7 linked regions of the Homo sapiens genome follow. The protein of the gene in region 2 interacts with the protein of the main gene of each other region in a biochemical or structural test. Each region holds a gene or a part of one and is shown on either strand. Other genes may lie near its edges. The genes, in order: SIPA1L3, SLCO1C1, RIMS2, STXBP4, RGS12, PDZD9 and CARD14.

Region 1 (3,500 bases), on a different chromosome or scaffold from region 2:
GTACCAACTGAGATACGCTGAAAGTGTAAAATACATATTGTATGTCAAACGCTTAATGTGGAAAAAAGGAAGTAAAATAGCTCACTAATAATTTCTATATTGATTACATGTTGAAATGATGTTTTAGATGAAATAAAATATATCATTAAAATTACTTTCCTGCTTCCTTTTACTTTTCAAAATATGGCTACTAGAAAATTTTTAATTACCTATATGAGCCTCATCAGTGACCCACATTTTTTTTTTTTTGAGAAGGAGTCTCACTCTGTTGCCCAGGCTGGAGTGCAGTGGTGCAATCTTGGCTCACTGCAACTGTCACCTCCAGGGTTCAAGTGATTCTCTGCCTCCGTCTCCCGAGTAGTTGGGATTACAGGCACATGCCACCAGACTCAGCTAATTTTTGTATTTTAAGTAGAGATGGGATTTCACCATGTTGGCTAGGCTGGTCTCGAACTCCTGAACTCAAGTGATCCACCCGCGTCAGCCTCCCAAAGTGCTGGGATTACAGGCATGAGTCACCGCGCTCGGCCCCACGTTATATTTCTAACAGACAGCACTGTTGTGGGCTTTTGAGAACCAGTGTCTTATTCAACTTTATACTGTCAGTGTCAAGCATGGACCCTGACACACAGGGTAGGTGAAGAAATGTTTCACAGATGGACAGATGAAAGATGCTCTCCATACTTTCAGTCTTTTTTTTTTTTTTTTTTTTTTAGACACAGAGTGGTGTGATCATAGCTCACTGTATCCTTGATCTCCTGGGCTCAAGGTGTGGTAGTGCCTGGGCTCAAGTGATCCTCTCACCTCAGCCTCCTGAGTAGCTGGGATTATAGGTGCACATCACCAAGCCTGGCTAATTTAAAAATTTTTTGCAGAGATGAGGTCAGATGCGGTGGCTCACGTCTGTAATCCCAGCACTTTGGGAGGCTGAGGCGGGAAGACCACCTGAGGTCAGGAGTTTGAGACCAGCCTGGCCAACATGGTAAAACCCCATCTCTACTAAAAATATAAAAATTAGCCGGGTGTGGTGGTGGGCGCCTGTAATCCCAGCTACTGTGGAGGCTAAGGCAGGACAGTCATTTGAACCCAGGAGGCAGAGGTTGCAGTGAGCTGTGATCATACCACTATACTCCAGCCTGGGCAACAGAGTGAGAACTGTCTCAAAAACAAAAACTTTTTTTTTTTTTGCAGAGTTGGGGTCTATGTTGCCCAGACTGGTCTTGAACTTCTGGTCTGAAGTAATCCTCCCACCTCGGCCTCCCAAAGTGCTGGGATTACAAGCCTGAGCCACCATGCCCACCCAATATTTTTAGTCTTAAAAGCACCCACTACTGTCCTCACATCTAACCAGGGCTACCCTTCATTCAAAATACGCCCACGCTACAGCAAATCAAAGTGCACACAGGTCATGATGCCGGAGCAGGGACCTGGGGCCCTTACAGGTCCAAGAATCATTGTCTTAGTTGATGGGCTATAGTATGATACTTTAACAGCCCACATGGCTAGTGTGCTTAAAACACCATTTCCAGCTGGGTGCATGGCTCACATCTGTAATCTCAACACTTTGGGAGGCTGAGGCCGTCGGATCACTTGAGGTGAGGAGTTGGAGACCAGCCTGGCCAAGATGGTGAAACCCCATCTCTACTAAAAATACAAAAATTAGCTGGGAGTGGCGGTGGGCGCCTGTAACTCCAGGTACTCAGGAGGCTGAGGCAGGAGAATCGCTTGAACCCAGGAAGCGGAGGTTGCAGTGAGCCCAGATCACACCACTGCACTCCAGCGTGGGCAACAGAGCGAGCCTCTGACTCAAAAAAAACAAAAACAAACAAACAAAAAAAAACACCTTTTCCAGCCAAGTCCCAAGTCCCCTTGCAAAGCTCACCCAAAGGAGACACCCTGCTCCCTCTCCTTGGACACTACACTTTGTTTCATGCTAACCTGTGCCTGGTATGGCAACCAAGCAGTCAACCTTGTTTTACTTGACAGGCTCTGCTGGAGGGTCTTTAGTTTTGAAACCACCACCAAACCATCCCTATCGTGTCTCATTGAGAGCAAAAATGATGCCACAACATCCCAGGCGGCCCCTGCTGCCACATCAATTAGGTACTAAATATAGTCTAAAGTGCTTTGCATGTCAAACAACAAGGAAAGGAAATGCTGTGTCCACTTCCTCAATTTGCCTCTGCCTGGTAAGGAGGGCCCTGGAAGAGTTTAGAATGCAGGTGAAGAGCATGGAGGGTGGAATCAGTTTCCTCATCTGTAAAATGAGTTTGATCAAGTTAATTACTTCACTGGACTACTGTCAGGATTAACTGAGGAATGTGTGAAATGCTTAGAAAAGCATCTAGCACAGAGTAAGCACCAGGTAAGCTGCTATCATTATTATTATTTTATAAAAAAGTAGGCCAGGTATGGTGGCTCGTGCCTGTAATCTTAGCACTTTGGAAGACTGAGGGTGGAGGATCACCTGAGCCCAGAAGTTCAAGATCAGCCTGGGCAAAACAGGTCTCTACAAAAAATAGAAAAAATGTGGCCGGCTGCAGTGGCTCACACCTGTAATCCCAGCACTTTGGGAGGCTGAAGCAGGCAGATCACCTGAGGTCAGGCGTTTGAGACCACCCTGGCCAACATGGTGTAACCTGTCTCCTCTATTAAAAGTACCAAAAAAAAATTAGCCAGGTGTGGTGGCACATTCCTGTAATCCCAGCTCCTTGGGAGGCTGAGGCAGGAGGATCACTTGAGCCCAGGAAGCAGAGGTTGCAATGAGCTGAGATCATGCCACTGCACTCCAGCCTGGGCGACAGAGCAGACCCTGCCACAAAAAAAAAAAAAATTAAAGTAGTATCAACTTGAAAACTAGGAATTAACTCTTCTCCAGTCAAACTGATACTCTTTGTAGCAAACTCACTCCCACCTCCGGGCCTTAACACTTGCTGTTCCCTCTACCTGGAATGTTCTTTCTTCAACTTTCGGCATAGCCAGTGCCACTGCTCATTAAGGTATCAGTTCACATGACTCCTCAAAGAGGCCTGGGAGGCCTTCCCTGACCATCAAAGCTAAGGTAACCACCGCCATCTTGCCCCATCAGCCATTTGCTCTCCACTTACCCTGTTAAATTTTCTCCATCACAGTTAAAACTATCTGAAGAGGCAGGATCAGGATTTTTTTTTTTTTTTTTTTTTTGAGACGGCCTCTCACTCTGCCGCCCAGGCTGGAGTGCAGTGGTGCAATCTAGGCTCACTGTAAACTCCGCCTCCTCCTGCCTCCTAGGTTCACGTGATTCTCCTGCCTCAGCCTCCCGAGTAACTGGGACTACAGGCGCCTGTCACCACACCTGGCTAATTTTTGTATTTTTAGTAGAGACGGGGTTTCACCTTGTTAGCCAGGATGGTCTCGATCTCCTGACCTCGTGATCTGCCCGCCTCAGCCTCCCAAAGTGCTGTGATCACAGGCGTGAGCCGCTGTGCCCAGCCAGGATTTTTTTTAATTAAAAAAAAAAA
Region 2 (3,500 bases):
ATTAGGCCAATTAGTAACCCTACAATGACCTCTAGGTGTTTAAGTGAAAGGAAGAGTTGCACATCTCTCACTTTAAAAGGAAAGCTAGAAAAGATTAGGCTTAATGAGGAAGGCATGTTGAATGCCAAGACAGGCAAAAATCTAGGCCTCTTGCACCAAACAGTTACCCAAGTTGTGAATGTAAATTCTGGCAGGAATTTATAAAAGTGATACTCCAGTAAACACATGAAAGATAAGAAAGTGAAATAGCCTTATTGAGATAAAGTTTTAGTAGTCTGGAGAGAAGATTAAACCAGCCACAACATTTCCTTAAGCCAAAACCTAATTCAGAACAAGGCCTAACCCTCATTAATTCTATAAAGGCTGAAAGAGATGAGGAAGCTGCAGAAGAAAAGTTTGAAGCTGGCGCAAACAGGTTCATGAGGTTTTAGGAAAGAAGCTGTCTCCATAACACAAAAGTGCAAGGTGAAGCAGCCAGTGCCGGTGGAGAAGCTGCAGAAAGTTATCCAGAATATTTAACTAGGATTATTGATGAAAGTGGCTATGCTAAACAACAGATTTTCATCGTAGATGAAATAGTCTTCTATTGGAAGAAGATGCCATCTAGGACCTTCACAGCCATAGAGGAGAAGTCAATCCTGACTTTAAAGCTTCAAAGGACAGGGTGACTCTCTTGTTAGGGGCTAAGGCCACTGGTGACTTTAAGTTGAAGCCAATGCTCATTTAACATTCTGAAATTCCTACACATAGGCTCTTCCTGTGCTCTCTAACTAGAACAATAGAGATATGCTGAATGACAGCACATCTTTTTGCAGCATGGTTTACTAACTATTTGAAGCCCACTGTTAGGATCTGCTGCTCAGGAAAAAAAATATATATATATTCCTTTCAAAATATTACTGCTCATTGGCAATGCACCTAGTCACCCAAGAACTCTGATAGAGATGTACAAAGAGATAAATGTTTTCATGCCTGCTAACATACCGTCCATTTTATACCCCATGGATCAAGGAGTAATTTTGACTTTCAAGTCTTATTATTTAAGAAACGTATTTCACAAAGCTATAGCTATGATCAGTAGTGATTTCTAATGATTTCTAGTGATTTCTAATCTAGACAAAGTAAATTTAAAACCTTCTGGAAAGGATTCCCCATTTTAGATGCCATTAAGAGCATTTGCAATTCATAGGAGGAGGTCAAAATATCCACATTAGCAAGAGTGTGAAAGAAATTGATTTCAGCCCTCCTGGATGACTTTGAGGTGTTGAACACTTTAGTGGAGAAAGTAAGTGCATATGTGGTAGAAACAGCAAGACAACTATAATTAGAAATGAAGCTTGAAGATGCGACTGAATTGCTGCAATCTCATGATAAAGCTTGAACAGGCTGGGCGCGGTGGCTCATGCCTGTAATCCCAGCACTTTGGGAGGCCAAGGCGGGCAGATCACCTGAGGTCAGGAGTTCGAGACTGGCCTGAGCAGCATGGAGAAACCCTGTCTCTACTAAAAATACAAAATTAGCCGGGCGTGGTGGCACATGCCTGTAATCCCAGCTACTAGGGAGGCTAAGGCAGGAGAATCGCTTGAACCCGGGAGGCGGAGGTTGTGGTGGGCCGAGATCGCGCCATTGCACTCCAGCCTGGGCAACAAGAGTGAAACTCCATCTCAAAAAAAAAAAAAAAAAAAAAAGCTTAAACAGATGAAGGGTTGCTTCTTGTGGATGAACAAAGTGAATGGCTTCTTGAGATGGAACCTACTCCTGATGAAGATGCTGTGAACATTACTGAAATGACAACAAAAGATTTAGTAAATTACATAAACTTAGTTGATAAAGCAGTGTCAGGGCTTGAGAAGATTGACTCCAATTTTGAAAGAAGTTTTACTGTGGGTAAAAATGCTGTCAAATAGCATTGCATACTACAGAGAAAACTTTCATGAAGGAAAGAGCTGATCTATGTGGCAAGCTTCATCATTTTCTTATGTTCATACATTGCCACAGTCATTTCAACCTCCAACAACCACTGCCCTGATCAGTCAGCAGCCATCAACATTGAGATGGGATCCTGTACCAGCAAAAAGATCACTATTCACTGAAGGCTCAGATGATTATTAGCATTTTTTAAGCAATAACTTTTTTTTTAAATGAAGGTATGTACATTTTCAGACATAATGCTGTTGCATACTTAATAGACTACAGTATAGTTAAACATAACTTTTGTATGCCCTGGGAAACAAAAAAATTGATGTGATTCTGTATTGTGAAATTCACTTCATTGTGGTGGTCTGGAGCTGAACCTGCAAAATCTCCAAGGTATGCCTGTGGTAAGATCCAGATAAAAAAAAAAATAGCATAGATGAATTATTAGGTATTTTATGATGTTATAGAGTTTTGCAAGAATTTATTTTTAAGTATATTATTTTAACATATTAGCTTTGCTGTTTGTATTACTTAGCCATCCCCTCTGTCTTTCAGATCACATAACCATTACCCCAAAAGATCCCCAGTGGGTAGGAGCCTGGTGGCTTGGCTATCTAATAGCAGGAATCATAAGTCTTCTTGCAGCTGTGCCTTTCTGGTATTTACCAAAGAGTTTACCAAGATCCCAAAGTAGAGAGGATTCTAATTCTTCCTCTGAGAAATCCAAGTTTATTATAGATGATCACACAGACTACCAAACACCCCAGGGAGAAAATGCAAAAATAATGGAAATGGCAAGAGGTAAGTCAAATTCTTGATTTTGAAGTATTTTCATTTTTCTGTTGGGGCTTAAGGAGATTTATAAATTACATCCCTCTCTTCCCTTCGTGTATTAAAAAGTTGAGAAACCATATCAGAAGCAAAAATGGAAATTGATGTCAGCTTTATTACTGAACAACTGATTGCAGTACACGACCAAAGAGCAAAGGCTTGACAGCCATTCCTGCTGATGTCTCCACCCTCTCACACCTCCTCAGTTTAGATCCTACCATTGTCTCTACCCAGGATTGCTGCTTCCTGTAATTCTGTGTATACAGGAAATAAAAGGCTTAATCTTCAAGGTTGGCAGCCTTTCAACAGATAAGATCTATTCATTTGAGAGATGTGTATCAATGCATGTCTCTCACCAATGATCAAAGGGGTGAGTGTTCTGTAGGCAAAAACCCAGTGTTCTAATGAACCCCCTTCATGGAAATGAGCAGCCCCTCATGATATTGGTCCCCCTCTTCTTGTCCCTTCAAGCAATATTTACATTTATAGAAATTCTTCACATGTCTAATTGGTAGGCTACATAATAGGAAAAAGGGAGAACACCAATGCTCATTTCTAACACTAAAATTCATATATTAAATGGAGATAACTCTCATATTTCTTTCTCTTTGACCACAAGCTAAGTTTGAGGAATAGAGACAAGAAAAGTGAAGGTCTTTATGTCCTGCCTGTGGCTCCCAGCTAGATGATGAGGGAGTATTCTCATCCTTTTCGTCTTTTGCCCACATCAGTTAGAGGAATCTGTTCTTGTC
Region 3 (3,500 bases), on a different chromosome or scaffold from region 2:
GTGGTTATTAAGTGCCTGCAACACTATATCTGGAATATGCTTATGCTTGAAAATTAGATAATATGATATTCCACTGCTATAAACTAGCATTTATTCTAATTTCCTTGCTTGGTTTGCTACGTACACTTCCACTACCCACCAACTATTATTCAGCAGCTTAGAAAAATATTTCCTCCATCTTCTCTATACCTAACATGCTGATATGAAAGTTACCTGAAAATGTAATGAAGCCAAACTGATTTGGCTCAAGAGTTGAATACTTTCTGACTAAAATTAAGTGCTGGCTCTTAAAAATCATTTTTCATTCATCATCTTCTAGATCATTCCTAGTATTGGTTCACCTAAATTTTCATTTTATCATCATGTCTCCAACCCTTTTTTATTGATCTAACTTGAGATAAGCAATAAAAATAGACAAATAATAATGATTTATTCATTACAAAAATCCTAGAAATCAGAAAAAACTGCTATTTTTATTCCATCTTCATTTAGATTAAGAACAGCTTGGTGATATTATTCTACTAAGTCTCCACATCTGACCCCTCATATTTCCTTATAGTCTCAGAGGAAGAAACTGCTTATTACCTTCTCAACTTACCCTTCTAACACTGGTAAAACCTAGTGAACCTTGCAATAAGACATGATACCCTGTTAACAAAATATTCACACTAACCTTTTCTCTGGAATAAACTTAGATAATATCAACTATTAATCATGAAAAGCAATAGGATTAGAATCCTGAAGATAACAGAAAAGGTTTAGAAAACTATTATGGGGATTTTGCCAGGACATGAACAGGAGACAATGAAAGAGTGAAGTCAGCTGAAGTTAAAGATGACTAAGATTCAACAGTTCAGTTGTGAATTTCTTAGTCAATGGTTTCTTAGCCCAAAAGCAAGAGCAGATAAAGGATACAGTAGAATGACCCAACCTGGCAAAATCAGCACTCTTCTCTAATATCTCCCCCGGGTCACAGAATCCCTTTTCCCCTCATATTTGGAACACAGTCTGCCAATCTACCAATTAGGTTCACTAACGAAAACAGAAGTTAGTCTAGGTTTTCCAGGTAGGAAGGGTTTTAATTCAGGAACCAGAAGCTACATAACAGTTGAATGGGCGACAGGAATAAAGGCCAAGAAAGTTAATGCTGATGATCTTAGCCTGAAGATGCAAAGACAAGGGTTCTCAAAATGGACACTAGAAAGCTGCTGTGAATGTCAGGAGTCTATGGAAATCTGCCAGCAATTACCTGTACCACCTACAGCATCAGGGTGGCCAATTAACAGGAGTTTGCCCAGGAGCCACTAAGACTTTTATATCTGCCCATCTGCTAGCCAACAACTAATGCTTGACAATAATGGCTTCTGTATATCCTCTACCTTTCAAATCTCATGTAAGTACAAAGCCAGGATAAACTCTAACCTGGAACTATAAAGGAATAAGTACTGTAGAAAGTGAAAAAATTAGTCTATCCCTTAAATGTTTTATAATTAAGAAAGTGGATGTGATATTTTTTAGCATTTACATTTATATATGAAACACTTAGGACTTAATTACAAATCTTTTATATTACAATTGTTACATAAAACCATAGATTCCTACAGTTTAAAATTTACAATCAAAACAAAACATTCAAAAAAATTTATAGTACCCAACACCCTATGTTTCTGTGTATATGTGTGTGTGCACTGTGCATCATTCATTTCACTTTTGTCATTACTTTTATACATTTGACTAAAAAAACTCTAGCATGATAGTAGTCTATCATGAAGAGAACACTAGATTTAAGGAATCTACAGTTCTTAGTCATACTTTTGTAATTAGCCAGTTATTTCGAACTATATAACCATTAAATCCTTAGGAGTTTGTGCTTTAAATTGAGAGGCATAGATTTTACATGTTAACTTATATATTACTTTAACAAACATATATTAGGTTAAGAAATAAATGCCACACACTATCTTATAAATTAGGAATGCAGAAATGATTAAGACACCTTCCTTGTTCTTAAGAGGGTGAATGATTCTAAAACCATCTTCCATTTCTTAGGTACTATGATTTTACAATATTGATACCACAACTTCATCAAGTTAATAAGCCTACATGAAAGCTTAATGCATTAAAGATTTCCCATAATACATTTAATGTTAAACTGAGTATTTTAGGATAGAAGTTAAAAAAAGGAATATTTCATTCCTATCTTAAGGAATTAACATGAATTTTTGAAAGTAAGTAGAGTATAAAGTGAATACAATGAGTCTTTATAACAGGGGATTATATTTTATCTTACAGATAAATAAGAATATTTACTTCCTATTATGGAATTCAGTTCCAAGAGAAAGGCTATTAATAATTAGTCACTAGCAAGCCATCTAAGTACTTTTTAAAAATCATACCTTAGGAAAATTGAATTCAATGTTAAATCCAGCAATCACATTGTTCTAGAGATTATCAAATTTGCCAGAAATATGTGAATCATACTGTAGATGTCGATTTGTACTGGATTTAAGATTATAACCACTATAAAAATGGAACAGTGGTTATAATCGGAAATTGGGATGACTACTGTCACTGTTACAAAGACTTAGGTTTTCAAGAATACCCTTTAAGGTATAGTACCTTACAGTATGTTAACACTATGCGAGAAACAAGGCAAGATTTCATTCTAACAATACATGTATCAAACAATGAAGAACCTGCAATCAATTATTTCAAAATAATAAATATTCTATCAAACAATTTTTACCAACTATATTATGAATTACTTCATATATACTGTCCTTTAAATTTTAAACTTCTATATTTCATAGATAGTATATTCCTTTCAGGAACTAAATAAAATCAGTGTAAATTCAAGTAATGTGTTTCTACTGTATATCTTTGCTATTGGCCTTTATAAACAAGCCTTAGCATTTATTATCATCAGGTGGAAAATATTTAATAGATAAAGCAATATCATTGATAATTTGTATATTTCTCTACAGAACCATAAGGCATTTAGCAGTATTTAATTCATCTGTTATAATACAAAGGAAAAGGAACGATTCGTCTAGGATTTTACATTTCACTTAATCCTTCAAAGACCCTGAGAAATTAAGAGGCAGAATCCAAAATTATGCCTTTCTTTAGTATAAAATGTATTTGTGGCATCATATAGTGCCTTAATCTTTACTCCTACGCATTCTATTATCCTTATTTCTGTTATAATATCAGTATATATTTATATTCACTTTATATTTACCTAATATCGATTCACTTCTCTTTATTGCCACCTGTGTTGTTAGAATTGCTTTCTCTTTTGCCAGAGTATTCTGTCCTTAATTAGAACCAGTTTATAGAAAACCACATTTTAAACATCCTAAATCTACTGTAGTAAGTATCATTTCTATTCCTTGCTTACAATTGTTTGTCATGTGGACTATTCAATCTATTTCTAAATATTCTAGCTTGTATAACACATCTGATGCTCCATTATAAATGTTATTCTAACTATGCAAAAT
Region 4 (3,500 bases), on a different chromosome or scaffold from region 2:
CAGTGGCACAATCTCGGCTCACTGCAACCTCCACCTCCCAGGTTCAAGCGATTCTCCCACCTCTCAGCTTCCCTAGTAGCTGGGATTACAGGTGCGTGCCAACACACCTAACTAATTTTTGTATTTTTAGTAGAGACAGAGTTTCACCATGTTGGCCAGGCTAGTCTCGAACTCCCAACCTCAGGCGATCCATCCGCCTCAGCCTCCCAAAGTGCTGGGGGTACAGGCATGAGCCACCACGCCTGACCTAAGAATTTGCTTTTAAGACAAGCATCAATTTGTGCTTGTTTGTTACGATGAAAACTATTTGGAGTTAGAGTAATAAGTTGATAGCGGTGGTGCTGAATGACTCTTTATCTTCTGTCAGTGATAGCAGATTAAGAAATTATTCTTATGATATCTACTTTTTCTTGTTAGAATTTTACTGAAGTATTAAAAGGCAAAATTTTCTCATTGACTATATTCTCTACTTAGCACTAGAGGGCAGCACAGAGCTATTAATGTTCTTCCTACCTGGTCATATCTGACCAAGGAAAACAGGCAAGATAGAAAAAGGTGTAGGAGAAGAGGACCAGGGGTGATGGCTCATGCCTCTAATTCCAGCACTTTTGGAGGCCCAGGCAGGAGGATCCCTTGGGCCCAGGAGTTCCAGGTTGCAGTGAGCTATGATTGCATCACTACACTCCAGCCTGGGCAACAGAGCATTTCTAAAAAATAAAAAAATTTATAGAAGTAATTTTCTAGTGCTTACATTATTTTTAAATATTTTCTCAAGATGGAGAGCTCTATGCATATGCATATTCTTCAAATACAAAATTGATATAACTTTATTTTACAACAATGTATTAATACATTTACTATATTCTAAATACTGTTTTAACATGTTAATAAATTTCTAGTCTGCACAAAATTTCTACATAGTAGAATCTGTGGAATAGGAAACACAAACTCATAAGGTTATCTTAATGAAGTTGCTGAACTGAGTAACTGTTAATATTTTTTAAATGCATATGAATGCTTTAACTTTCTGTAATTTTGTTTTAACATTATAATGTTTCATAATTAACAGTATAGGCTATCTCAAGCTTATAGCTAGATTATATTTCATTTATATTTTCAAATCTTCCAAACTGTAAGGGAGTTATTGGAACGCAGAAGAAATTTTCTTTAATTATTCATGGTTTGCCACCACCCACCCCAAAAGTTTTCCTCCTGGAAAATATGAGAATAAAATACTGGTTTAGTAGAAGCAAAATAGTATGTTTCTTTGAAAAACATATCCAGAGTTCAAATATGGGATATTATGAATACATCTTTTCAGTTCAAGCAGAACCAAGATTCCCTCAGCTCTAAGAGCTAGAGGCACCCTATAAATTGAGAACTACTGTATTAATTGCTAAAGTTAAGGAAATAAGAGAGCTCCAAGGCCCTTTCACTGTGTCAGCTAGTCCCATATCTATCTGGGGTCAATCCTAGACCCTTTTTCTGGCCAAGACACTCCTTTAAGCTTCATACCCATATTCAGTTCCCTGATCAACATTTTTACTTGGACCTCTTAAAGGTATCTCAAACTCAGCATTTCTGAAGCAGAACTCATGACATTTACATCACACCATATTCTGCTCAACTCTTCCCAAACAGAGTCTCTTCCAGTTTACCTAGTCTTGGTGAATGACAGCTTCTAGCTACACAAAGTCAGAAAATTTAACAGCTTCCTATTTCAACTCCCATAACACTGTTCAATTCATTAACACATACCATTGACTTTTTTACTCTCGAAATATCTCTTGAACCCATCAGTCTTCTTGATCTTTATTCTTATCACTGGAGCTTAAACTGTCATCAGTTTTGAATCAGCCCTTTCAGTAGCATCGTTTGTTCTTATGCACCATACCTATTTCCCTCCCAACCTACATATCTTACTAATATTTGGTTGCCTGCAAGGTTCCATATAGTGTGGCTTCTGCCCTGTCCTTCTCTGCCTCTCCATCACTATGCTTCCAGAGTAGCATTTTCTCAGTTCCTGGAAGGGGCGAATTTCTCTTTTTTTTTTTTCTTTTCCATCTCATATGCTGTTCCCTTAGGAAACAGCACTCCATTTCCTTTCCCCCATTATTTCCAGTTATCAATTCAAAGACTGCTGCCTAAGGGTTGTGTTGCCTGCTTTCCCCCAGTCTAGGCTAGGTTTTATTTTTTTCTACATATGCTCCTAAATCCCATTCCTTTCCTTTGTGTCACCTACCTCAGTTTGCAATGATATATTTATATTTATGATTGTTTAATCATCTCTGCCTGAACCACAAGACAGTATGTTTCTTAAGGGCAAGGATGCTATCTGATTTTATTCACAGTAATATTGTTAGTCCCCACTGTGGTGCCTGACACATACATACTTGCTCAATTTAAATTTATGAATGAACGGTCCCGTAGTCATTTTCTCACATTTCTGAGGATTACTGATCTGCTTATTTACCCTTCCACTGGCACCATTTGGGCTCCACACCAAGGTACTTCCTCCTTGGGCCTTTGTGTCAGATTTCCGACAACACTTTAAAGTTCTCAAATGTTCATTTTTATTTCTTTCTTTTGTTGCTGGTAACATAGGGAAAGCAGACAGAAATCAAAATCCTCTCTTCAAATCTGATAGTATATTTCATATTTTCTTCAGTTGGTTCTAAGATATACATTAAAACATATACATATAAGCTATGCATGCACACACACATATATATAACATGCATATATCGGTATGTAATATACTTATGAGTGTGTGTATGTACGTATTTTTTCCTCTTCTATCTCTGAAATTATAGGTCTCACAGTCAGTGTCATCATGTAATTTGTGGCATTGAAGTAGGACATATTTAACTTTCAGAGGAAATCTGTTTTCATGCGGAGCATAGCACTGGAACCAGGGCTAAGGCTTTTAGATAAATATCAGGATCAGGCCTCTGGATGGCAAACTATGAAGAAACCAGTCCCACTGGTGGGAGCTGAAGAAGTAGCAGCCAAGATGGTTCGCTTTGCAGTGTCACTCTCTTTATTCCTTTGCCATTATTATTTTTGTCATAGCTACCTTAATTTCCTCAGACTGTTTCTTGGCCCCCTTTAACCTATTGTGGACTTACTGTGTACCTAGCACTGTACCAGGGAAATAACCATGAAAAGGACAGAGTTCTAGTTATGCCTAATGAAAGAATTGGTGATTCTGGCCCACTAAAAGAATCATTGCCCCTAGACTGGGAGTTGCTGATTTAGTATATTCTAATGTGAGGGCAGGGAAAAGCAGATATGTAAACATAAGGACCATACAGAGTAAGTGCAATCCTTTAGGTAAGTAAAAGTGCTTTTTGAGCAAAAAGACACAACGATTAAGTAAATCCTGGGCAACTAGAGAAAACTTCCAGCAGAGATAGTGTTTGAATTGGGCTGTGAAGTTTAAGTCAGAGTTTATTGCAGAGAAGTGGCAGGGTGGATGGTGGCATTCTAGATGGGAATTC
Region 5 (3,500 bases), on a different chromosome or scaffold from region 2:
TCAGCTGCACACAGTCGTGCATGATCTTCATGGTCACCAGCGAGTGGATTTTCTGCTCTGCCCGCAGGCGCCGCATGCAGCCGCGGATGGCTTGCAAGCTGTCGGACTCCAGGTTGGAGCTCGTGGAAGGAAGCTCAATGGAGCCTAAGTAGCCCACGATCATCGCCACGTTTAAAATACTTGCATCCAATGCAAAATCGTCATGACTTTCTAGTCCAATGCTGAAAACCGAATCATCATGAATAACTTTTGATATTTCCTCCTTAGAAAGCATGTTGGGATTTGGATTATTTATACTTTCATGTCCAACATCAAATCGAGTTGCGGCCGACTCTGAAAGGGATCTTTGTTTCAATTTCAAGGGCTCTGAATTGCTCGCACAAAGGCTCGGGTTTTCAAAAATCATATTGAAAATTCCACCAGACTGCATTTCCTCCACGACTCGCTCTGCTCTGTTTATACCTAGTGCTTTAGAATCCAGCTTGGGCTTCAGCCAGCCTTTTCCTTCATAGAGTCCCCCTTCTTCATCACTGGAACAGGATTCGAAGCGGCCGACGCCTTCAGCAATCACCATGTGAAGGACACCAGAGCACTTCCCAATTAATTTCACTACATCTTCATGAGATGCTTTTTTCACGTTGATTTCATTGACAGCAAGTATCTGGTCTCCAGCTCGGAGGCCCACGAAATCCGCAGGGCTCCCTCTCATGACGCAGCTGAGCACACAGGGTGCCTGTCCCGAAAGCGTGAATCCGTAGCCGGCCCTCCCCCGGGCAACCTCCACACTCCGCACCCTTGGGGGCGACGGCCCAGGCAATGGGCGTTTGGAGGCCTCCCCAGCTCTAAACATTCTGATGAGCTTCCAAGACCAAGAGCACGTCTCATTGTTCCCTTGGAGCCATATTTCAAGGAATGCTTGATGCTACCATGTTTGCTTCTTCAAACAGTGCCCTAAGAAAGAAAAACGAACAGCTCATTATTAAAGAGCCCATCTTTCTCCACCACTCACTGGTATTAGCTAAACACAAAAAGATAATTCATAATAAAAACCACCACAGAAAGAGCCTCTAAGTGTCTATAGATAATAAATCTTCAAGTCAGGCTAAGAAACTTCCTTTCGGAGTAGAAAATGTCTCCCACAACTGCTACCTTGTTACCACACAAGTTCCTGCCAGGCCCACCTGCCACGGGTGTGAGGATGCAGGACTGCTTCCCAGCACTGCTTCCACACCCTGTTTGGATGGAAAGAGCCCCTTGCTACTCAAAGTGTGGTCCGTGGACTGGCAGCCCGTCTGAAAGGCAGACTCTCGGGCTCCACACAGAAGAAACACACCCAAACCCACGTTTCACAGGATGGCAGAGTCCAAGCGTGAGAAGCAAGGCCTGCTACAGGCTTCAGGTTCAAAGGCACCTGCAGAACACTGAGTCTAACCCCTTAGTTGATCATAAATCCCCTGACATAGAGTTTTCCCTCAGGAGAGGGGTCACCTAATATTCCATGACCCTCCCACATTAATTTATTTTGAATATACTGTGTGGGGGAAAACGTATTAGCCTGAAACAACCTCGATCAATACTGCAGAGGCCACTCAACAGGCTAGATAAAAACCACCACCTAAAAAAGCAGAAATGTCATATTAACTCAATTCTTCCAGGGGGTATAAAAGTATTGGTTGTCATTGAGAACAAACTTGTCAGTGGTCCGCGGATCACCCCCAGGCCAGTGATTCCCTAGGATTCCCAGGACTTGGCACAAAGGTGCTCTCACAGCTGAGATTCATTACAGCGAAAGGATTCCACACAAAATCAGCAAGGGCAGAGGTCCATGGGGCGATGTCCCAAAGAAACCAGGCTTGAGCTTCCAGAATCCTCTCCCAGCGGGGTCACGCAGGACGCACTTAACTCCCTACACAGTGAGCCGTGACAACGCATGTGCAGTGTCGTCACCAGGGAAGCCCACTAGAGACTCGGTGCCAGGGTTTTTACTGGGGGCTGGGCACATGGGCACCCTCTGCCTGCTTCGTGCCCAGACTCTGGACTCCCAGAAGAAAGGAAGGTTCTCAGCACAAACCTTGTTCCCCACACAAGCAGCTAAGCACAGGGAGCCCCTCTTCATTGAGGGTGGTGGGCACCGTCCTGACACCAGCGGGGGGCCAGCCTTGCACACAGGCCTCTCAGGATGGTCTCGGGCCTGCTGTGTAGTCTCTTCTGCAAGACTCTTTAAAGATCACTTTAAAAAGCAATACAGTAAGTGATTGTGTTGTGAAGACACAAAATAGAATAGAGGGTATGTTTTTTTAAAGAAATAATTGTTTTAGGCCAGGTGCGGTGGCTCACGCCTATAATCCCAGCGCTTTGGGAGGCCGAGGCAGGTGGACCACGAGGTCAGGAGATCAAGACCATCCTGGCTAACACGGTGAAACCTTGTCTCTACCAAAAATACAAAAAAAATTAGCTGGGCATGGTGGCGGACGCCCGTAGTCCCAGCTACTCGGGAGGCTGAGGCAGGAGAATGGCATGAACTCGGGAGGTGGAGCTTGCAGTGAGCCGAGATCGTGCCACTGCACTCCAGCCTGGGTGACAAAGCGAGACTCTGTCTCAAAAAATAAAATAAAATAAAATAAATAATTGTTTTAAAGTTAATAACTTCTAATAGAAAAGATTTTTGTGTCTTGGGATAAAGTTTCCAGCAATAGGATCATAAACAGATTTGAAGTAATTTACACACATAAAAGCTACAGAACTAGATAGAGTGGAAAGGCTATTACTAGGTGACTCCAAAAGTGGCTTCAGTGATGACAAAACACGGACACAGAACATGCGTACTTAGTAAAATTATGTTTTGATGGAAAAGAGTAAAAAATGAATATAAATTACATTACTCAATATCTAAGTAGTACTGTATTAATAATTTAAATATTAGGACTGGGCATTTAACTATTTAAAATCATTAAAAAATGAATTTAAAAAATAAAATAATTAAAATTATTTTATAATTTTTTAATAATTAAAAATTATTAAAAATCATCATTAAAAAATAAATAAATAAATGTAAAAGTTGGCCAAGAAACACGTCTGGGGATCGATCTTCTTAAGAGGTGTGACAGGCTGGCTGATGGCCCCTGATACACCCACATCCTCACTCCCAAGCTTTTGGATGGCTCCTCCCATCCACGTGACCACGTGAAGGCTCTAGAGATGGGGAGAGTGTGGGGTGCGCCTGTGTGAGCCTGGGGTCAGAGCCAGAGGGGACGGCCACATGAGGAAGGATGCGGAGACTGCAGGGATTCAAGGATGGGTCTCGAGCCCAGGCAGACGGGCAGGCGGTCACCTCCAGAAGCCGGAAAGGTGAAGGAAGCAGACTTAAAGTCACCAGAGGAACCAGCTCTGCCACACCTGCCATCAGCCAGGTCACACTGACTGCAGACACGAGGCCCCCGAAAACGCAGGAGAATGAATGTGTGTTGTCTTAAGCCCCCCAGTTTGCAGTAATTTCTTTC
Region 6 (4,045 bases), on a different chromosome or scaffold from region 2:
TGTCTCAGGAGTTTGATCCAGACCTCTATAAGCAAATGCAGAAGTTCGGGAAGGCAAGAAACACAAGTACATCTTGAAAAAAAAACAAAAAAAACTTTGTGCAAGGCACGGTAGCTCACGCCTGTAATCCCAGCACTTTAGGAGGCCAAGGCGGGTAGATCACGAGATCAGGAGTTCGAGACCAGCCTGGCCAACATGGCGAAACCTGTCTCTAAGTTACAAAAAATTAGCTGGGCATGGTGGCGCGGGCCTGTAATCCCAGCTACTTGGGAGGCTGAGGCACGAGAATCGCTTGAACCCAGGAGGCAGAGGTTGCAGTGAGCTGAGATGGCGCCATTGTACTCCAGCCTGGGTGACAGGGCGAGACTCTGTCTCAAAAACAAAAAAAAATTATCTGGGCATGTTGGTGCATGCCTGTAATCCCAGCTACAAGCCTGGGTGACAGAGCAAGACTCCATCTCAAAAAAAAAAAAAAAAAAAAAAAAAGAGAGAGAAAAAAACCTTGACAAAGTGAAGTTGGATGTAGATTTTCTTGGAGCAAGTAAATACATGCAATCTCCTGTCTCAAATGCTAGCAACATACCAGACCACTCTGCTTCATTTTGGAGAGAAGACTTCTCACACTATGGCAGCCATCCATGAGAGCTTCACAGGTTATCAGCCATATGAAGTCACTACTTTAAAGCACTTACAAAACCCTCTGAAAAAACTAGTTGAGAAAGAAGAAAAGAAGCTCACCCAGCAGGAAAGCACAGATGTAACAGTGCAGGAGCTGAGTCAATTAATTTCATTAGAGGATGAAAACCACGACAAGGAAAACACTGAAGATGGAAAAGGTATTTTATGTGTTTTAGGCAAAGGCTCTTCACACAGTGCATGCTCAGGATGAACTATTAGACATGAAACCTGAGGAAAGTGCTCGCTAGGGCCCAGTGGCAGGGACCCTGGAACCCGAAGGTACTGACAAAGATGATCCTACTGCTGTTGAAAGTGAGATCTTCAATGCTTCCTCCCTGGAAAAGGGTGAGCTCAGAAAAGAGTGAGCTGCTGTGTTTGGGGACAACCAGGTGGAGGAGGCAGCACTATGGTCCTCGGAGAGCCAGACCCCAAGCACCAGACTAAAATATGAAAGACTTACAGGTTTTGCTACAAGGCTAGTCAGACAGCAATGTCAACCTTCCCAAGGACAAGCAGTCCAAATGACAACAGCCCTGCAGTGAAAAAGCCTAAGGCTGTCTGGCACCTGCCTGCCTAGTTCAGCCTCTTTGCCAACCTCAAGTCTTATCAAATCCTGATGCTGTGCGGAAAAAAGCCATAAAGAACAAGAATTGCTCAGTGCAGGAGTCTGCATCCTTCAGTAAGCCCACCTGGGGGCTAGCAGAAGTATAAAGTGATTAGAGCCTGGGCAACATAGTGACACCTCATCTCTTCTATTTAGGCTGGGCATGGTGGCTCACACCTGTAATCCCAGCACTTTGGGAGGCCGAGGGTGGGCGGATCACTTGGGGTCAGGAGTTCGAGACCAGCCTGGCCAGCATGGTGAAACACCGTTGCTACTGAAAACACAAAAATCAGCCAGGCGTGGTGGTTCACGCCTGTAATCCAAGCTACTCTGGAGGCTGAGGGGCAAGAATCGCTTGAACCCGCCTGGAAGGCGGGGGTTGCAGTAAGCCAAGATCATGCCGCTGCACTCTAGCCTGGGTCACAGAGCAAGACTCTGTCTCAAAAAAAAAAAAAAAATTAGCTGAATGTGGTGGTGCATGCCTACAGTCCCAGCTATGGGAGGCTGATGCAGGAGGATTGCTTGAGCCCAAGAATTGGAGGCTGCAGTGAGCCAGGAGCATACCACTGCACTCCAGCCTGAGCGACAGAACAAGACTCTGTCTCTAAAAATAAAATACAGTGACCCATATGCTATTTTAAGATTTATGTGCCCTTTTAATAAAAATGAAAGGGCCAAAGTCCCTATTTACATTGGTATAATTTTTTAAAGGCTCCTTACTATGTGATTTCATTTTTATGATGTTCTCCATGGAAAAGGCAAAAAAAAAAAAACGCTGTAAAAAACAGATGGGGGTGTGAGGAGCTGCAGTGGGGTGGGGTTTGGCTGCAACTGGGCATTGCAAAGTAATTTTAGGGAGTGGTGGAACTGTTCCCTATCTTGATGGAGGGGGTGGTTCAACGTGGGTATAGCTTGTCAAAACGGTAGCTGTACTTTTAAAAGGGGGGATCTTACTGCATGGAAATTATACCTTGATAAAAATAACGATGGCCAAGGCGGGCGGATCACTTGAGGTCAGGAGTTTGAGACCAGCCTGGCCAACATGGTGAAATCCCATCTCTACTAAAAATAAAAAATTAGCTGGGCATGGTGGCAGGCACCTGTAATCCCAGCTACTCGGGAGGCTAAGGCAGAGGAATCACTTGAGCCTGGGAGGCAGAGGTTGCAGTGAGCTGAGATCGCGCCACTGCACTCCAGCCTGGGGGACAAAGCAAGACTCCTTCTCAAATGATGATGATGATGATGATGATGATGATGATGATGATGATGATGATGATAATGATGATGATGATAACAACAACGATGGAGAGAGGTTATCTCCCAGGCCAAGAGTGCACCGTTGCCATTTTACAGAGGAGGAACATTGACGAAGGCTTGGTCCCCAGGGCTTCTTCACCCGCTTCCTTCTCCCCAGTTACCTTTTTTGTTTTTGTGGGAGGCCTTCTGCATGGTCCCGGGAGGTCAGGCAGCCCGGGAGGGCCTCCCGGAGCAGAGGCTGGAGTCAGTCCCAATGCCAACAGTTTCGAACCTTGCCCGCGGGCACTGCCCTCGGGATGGCCGCCAGGGGGCGCTGCGCCGCCACTGCCCAGAAATTGGGCGGCAGTGAGGTCGCCGCAAGGCTTCCCGTGGACCCTGCAAAACGTGGCGTGGGCATTGCACACCATTGTACTGTATGGAAACTTCTGCAGAGGTTAGCACCGTGCCTGACCCACGGTGGTTTCTTCATTCCTTCTTTTCTTTTTCTTTTTTTAAGAGACGGGCAGGGGGTGGGGGTCTCACTATGTTGCTCAGGCTCAACACAACTGTTGCACTATGGGCTCAAGCGATCTGCCCGCCTCAGCCTCCCAAAGTGCTGGGATTACAGGCATGAGCCACCGCGCTTGGCTTCTTCATTCATTCTTGGTGAACCTAAGAAATAGGGAGGGGGAGAAGGCACAGAGGAGGGTGTCTCAAAGATGTGAGGTGGTCTGCAGAGGAAGATCACAGCCAGAAGATCACAGGAGATCACAGAATACCTAGAAGATCAGAGAATCCCCCGCTGCACTTCTAATAATGGTATTTTAAAAAAATTGTTACATCAGTAGCTCCAATGCTTTGGAACTGCACTTTTTTTCATGAATGTTTTGAATAAGAAAAGGCCCCAGGGTGGCCTAAAAAAAAATGAGTCACTATTAGGAGAGGCACTATTAATGCTTCCTTCTTTTTTCCAAGATAATTCTTCCTCCCACACACATTCACTCATACAACAAGTATTTACAGGGAGCTGTTCTGTCATTTACTGATACTGGGGACACAACAGTAAGCAAGACAAACACAGAAACACAGGCTCTATCCTCTTGAAACCTGTACTTAAAAAACAGATGAAGTGGACAATTTTAGGAAAATATAAATTATTAAAAATAAATTCTAGGCCAGGTGTGGTGTCTAACACCTGTAATCCTAGGTACTCAGGAGACTGAGGCAGGAGGACTGCTTGAGCCCAGGAGTTTGAGATCAGCCTGGGCAACATAGTGAGACCCTTTCTCTATAAAAAAAATTTAAAAATTAGCTGGGCATGGTGGTGCACATCTGTAGTCCTAGCTACTCAGGAGGCTGAGATGGGAGGATCACTTGAGCCCAGGATTCAAGGCTGCAGTGAGCTATGATTGAGTCACCACCTTCCAGCCTGGGTGATGGAGCAAGATCCTGTCTCAAAAAATAAAAATGAATAAATGAGTTAGTAAATTCTAGAAGAAAGAGAAAACCTAATGAGGTAGGCCCTGG
Region 7 (3,500 bases), on a different chromosome or scaffold from region 2:
TGCAATCGCCGCCACAGTTAACTTTAGGACATTCCATCATCTGTAAAGGAAACATCCCCTACCTTTAGCTACCATCCTGACATCCTGATAGACAGGGGGCCTGAAGACCCCTCGGTGATGCAGGGCAGGGCTGGAGTGGGGGCCCTGGGCTGACTTTATTGCTCGCTATTGCTGCCTTGAAATTCTGAATACGTTTTTAAAACAAACGCACCATCCTTTCATTTTGCCCTGAGCTCCACAGACGATATAGCTGGTCCTGAAGTGGGGCAGAGGATCATTCTGACTTGGAGTCAGACTCTAGCGACGCAGGCTTCTACTGGGTGGAGGCCCAGGAGCTCAGGAGCCTTCTGTGGGAGTGTGCCCATTGGCAGCGCATCCCTGGAGATGGACGGACAATTTCCACATCGCCTTTGCCCCTGTGCACGCTCCCTCTGGCTGCCGTCATAAATTACCACAAACTGGGTGGCTTAAAACAACAGAAATGTATTTGCTCATGGTTCTGGAGGCCAGAAGTCCACACTCCAGGGGTGAGCAGGGCCGCACCCCCATGAAGGCTCCAGGGAGGGTCTGCTTCATGCCTTCTCTTGAGTTTCTAGTGTTGCCACCGACCCTTGGCGTGTCACTCCAGTCTCGGCCTCTGCCAACATGGGGTGATCATGGGGTGTCTAGGCCTAGGGCCCTTCTCCTCCTCTTCTTCTTCTTCTTTCTTTTTTTTTTAAGACAGGGTCTTGCTCTGTCGTCCAGGCTGGAGTGGAGTGGCACTACCTCAGCTCTGCAACCTACACCTCCCAGGCTCAAGCGATCCTCCCACCTCAGCCTCCTAAGTAGCTGCGACTACAGGTGTGCACCACAACACCTGGCTAATTAAAAAAAAAATTTTTTTAGGCCAGGTGCAGTGGTTCATGCCTGTAATCCCAGCACTTTGGGAGGCCGAGGCAGGCGGATCACTTGAGGTCAGGAGATCGAGACCAGCCTGGCCAACATGGTGAAACCTTGTCTCTACTAAAAATAAAGAATTAGCTGGGCATGGTGGCATGCACCTGTGATCCCAGATACTCAGAAGGCTGAGGCAGGAGAATTGCTTGAACCCGGGAGACAAAGGTTGCAGTGAGCCAAGATTGTGCCATTGCACTGCAGCCTGGGAGACGAGCAAGACTCTGTCTCAAAAAAAAAAAATTTTTTTTTAGCAGATTTTAGCAGAGACAAGGTCTCACTGTGTTGCCCAGGCTGGTCTCAAACTCCTGAGCTCAAGCAATCTGCCCGCCTTGGCCTTTCAAAGTGTGGGATTACAGGCATGAGCCACCACACCCAGCCCTTCTCCTCTTGTTATAAGGGCACCCATCCCTGGACTAGGGCCCACCCTAATGACCTCAACTTGATTACGTTGGCAGAGACTTATTCCCAAATGAGGTCCTACTTACAGGTACTGGGGGTCAAGACTTCAGCATTCTTTTGCGGGGGGCCACAATCAGTGACACCCTGACTCGCAAGCCTCAATCACCTGTTCCAGTGAGAAACAGGACTGAGATCAGAAGGAATGAGGCAGAGCTGCCCTCGATTGGTTCTCCTCTCCTCCTCACCTGCCCACCCCGGCCTCTGCGCCCGTCACTGTCCTCTCCAGCTGTTCTTCCTTCCGGGCAAGGAGACTCAGCAGAAGGGTATGAGTGGCCTGGCCCTGTGGGGAGCCGCAGACAGGCCTGTGGGTGCTTTGGATAACTACTGCGCCTGTCAACTCTCCTTGGTAGTCTAGGGTTCAAAGCCCAGGTCCATTCTAGAAGTCTGCTTCCAAGTGCTAAGGAAGCTTCAATAGTTACTGGGAAAACCACAGGGGTCAAAGGTCCGTCGAGTTATTTCCCGGATCCGAGTCTGACGTCTTTTCCCCGCCGCTTGCGGTGGTTGTGACCGAACCTTGAGTTTTGGAACAGGTCACATGGCTTTGAAATCACGGTCAATTCACCTGGTGCTGCTTTGACTTCAGGCTCTTCCTTCTGCCCAGCTCCGTCCCACCCAGCAGCCCGCAGAGAAAGGAGGCAGCTGGCACCACACTGGGCTTTGGAGACACTGCGGGGACTGTGGACCCCACCCTGCTGCACGGAGCTCCTGCAAAAGCAAACCTGAGAACCTTGGTGAGTACTTCCGGAGACCCGGCTCCTGGGACGGCTTCTGGCGCTGCTCCTGCACACACGACTCTCCAACGATCATTTTCCATGTTTTATTTTTATCTTTTAATTTTTGAGATGGAGTCTCACTCTGTCACCCAGGCTGGAGTGCAATGATGCAATCTCAGCTTACTGCAACCTCTGCCTCCCAGGTTCAAGTGATTGTCCTGCCTCAGCTTCTCAAGTAGCTGGGACTACAGGCACCCGTCACCATGACTGGCTAATTTTTGTATTTTCAATAGAGACGGGTTTCCACCATGTTGGTCAGGCTAGTCTCAAACTCCTGACCTCAGGTGATCTGCCCGCCTTGGCCTCCCAAAGTGCTGGGATTACAGGCATGAGCCACTGGCCCCGGCCCATTTTCCATTTTTCAGATGACAGGTGTTGATTTGCTCTGATTTTCAAGTATTTTTAGCATACAGATCCCTGCAAGAGGCATCTGTCTCCAGTGGTCCAGCCTCTCCTTCCAAATGAAAAGAATCAAGTCACAGGAATTCATGGGTCTGTAAGGAATCGCTCCCATCTGTGCCCAGGAGATTAACAAAGGCGGTGGCTGCAGCTCTGTGAGCAGTGGAGAAAAATTAGGCACAACCTGATATCCTCCCACAGGAGCGTAAGTCCACTGTGGTTATTCATATCATTGAATCCAGTGCACAGTTTAAAGGACCATGCATGTATCAAGCTGCATGTATCAGTATGAGAAACCTCAGAAGCCGTACAGCCTTGCACAGAACGATAGTTTCTGTGAAGTTCCAGCTAACACTGAAGGCACTGTTGATGTAAAGCTGCTGTCTGCACGAAGTATCATGCAAAGATGCTATGTACTGTTTATACACACTTCCATTTGTAGGAAATGATTTTTAAAATATCATTTTTAGGCTGGACTGTAATCCCAGCACTTTCAGAGGCTGAGGTAGACAGATCACCTGAGCCCAGAAGTTCGAGACCAGCCTGAGCAACATACGGAGATTCCATCTCTACAAAAATTAAAAAAGAAGCCAGGCATGGTGGCGCATGCCTGCGGTCTCAGCTACTTGAGAGGCTGAGGTGGGAGGATTGCTTGGGTCTGGGAGCTCAAGGCTGCAGTGAGCCACGATCACGCTACTGCGTTCCAGCCTGGGCAACAGAGTGAGACCCTACCTCAAAAAAAATCATTTTTAAATGATTTTAGAATGTCTGGCCAGAGAGGGAGGGAAGAGGGACTGAAGAGAACAAAAAGGCGCCATCTGCCTCGCATTTCCTTAAAAAGAAACCTGAAGTGCAGAATGTCAAGATGGTTGAATCCGCATGGTAGATATGTGGATATTTGTTATTTGCAGGATTTTTTAATATGCTGAAAAC

Evidence for each region.
Region 1: the proteins of SLCO1C1 (region 2) and SIPA1L3 interact in a test that uses a peptide from one of them, tested with the Homo sapiens proteins (one large-scale study listed by IntAct).
Region 3: the proteins of SLCO1C1 (region 2) and RIMS2 interact in a test that uses a peptide from one of them, tested with the Homo sapiens proteins (one large-scale study listed by IntAct).
Region 4: the proteins of SLCO1C1 (region 2) and STXBP4 interact in a test that uses a peptide from one of them, tested with the Homo sapiens proteins (one large-scale study listed by IntAct).
Region 5: the proteins of SLCO1C1 (region 2) and RGS12 interact in a test that uses a peptide from one of them, tested with the Homo sapiens proteins (one large-scale study listed by IntAct).
Region 6: the proteins of SLCO1C1 (region 2) and PDZD9 interact in a test that uses a peptide from one of them, tested with the Homo sapiens proteins (one large-scale study listed by IntAct).
Region 7: the proteins of SLCO1C1 (region 2) and CARD14 interact in a test that uses a peptide from one of them, tested with the Homo sapiens proteins (one large-scale study listed by IntAct).

The regions. Positions count from the first base shown.
Region 1 is NC_000019.10:37,913,708-37,917,207, reverse strand, and holds part of SIPA1L3 (signal-induced proliferation-associated 1-like protein 3), read right to left. Parts: intron 1-3,500. UniProt on the Homo sapiens protein: Plays a critical role in epithelial cell morphogenesis, polarity, adhesion and cytoskeletal organization in the lens.
Region 2 is NC_000012.12:20,719,332-20,722,831, forward strand, and holds part of SLCO1C1 (solute carrier organic anion transporter family member 1C1), read left to right. Parts: intron 1-2,472; coding exon 2,473-2,718; intron 2,719-3,500. UniProt on the Homo sapiens protein: Mediates the Na(+)-independent high affinity transport of organic anions such as the thyroid hormones L-thyroxine (T4), L-thyroxine sulfate (T4S), and 3,3',5'-triiodo-L-thyronine (reverse T3, rT3) at the plasma membrane.
Region 3 is NC_000008.11:103,881,610-103,885,109, reverse strand, and holds part of RIMS2 (regulating synaptic membrane exocytosis protein 2), read right to left. Parts: intron 1-3,500. UniProt on the Homo sapiens protein: Rab effector involved in exocytosis. May act as scaffold protein. Plays a role in dendrite formation by melanocytes.
Region 4 is NC_000017.11:54,992,765-54,996,264, forward strand, and holds part of STXBP4 (syntaxin-binding protein 4), read left to right. Parts: intron 1-3,500. UniProt on the Homo sapiens protein: Plays a role in the translocation of transport vesicles from the cytoplasm to the plasma membrane. Inhibits the translocation of SLC2A4 from intracellular vesicles to the plasma membrane by STX4A binding and preventing the interaction between STX4A and VAMP2.
Region 5 is NC_000004.12:3,313,521-3,317,020, reverse strand, and holds part of RGS12 (regulator of G-protein signaling 12), read right to left. Parts: intron 2,211-3,500; exon of another isoform or gene 2,072-2,210; intron 952-2,071; 5' UTR 851-951; coding exon 1-850. UniProt on the Homo sapiens protein: Regulates G protein-coupled receptor signaling cascades. Inhibits signal transduction by increasing the GTPase activity of G protein alpha subunits, thereby driving them into their inactive GDP-bound form.
Region 6 is NC_000016.10:21,998,317-22,002,361, forward strand, and holds the start of PDZD9 (PDZ domain-containing protein 9), read right to left. Parts: upstream 2,801-4,045; 5' UTR 2,732-2,800; coding exon 2,701-2,731; intron 1-2,700.
Region 7 is NC_000017.11:80,176,530-80,180,029, forward strand, and holds part of CARD14 (caspase recruitment domain-containing protein 14), read left to right. Parts: intron 1-1,978; 5' UTR 1,979-2,126; intron 2,127-2,565; exon of another isoform or gene 2,566-2,574; 5' UTR 2,575-2,772; intron 2,773-3,500. UniProt on the Homo sapiens protein: Acts as a scaffolding protein that can activate the inflammatory transcription factor NF-kappa-B and p38/JNK MAP kinase signaling pathways.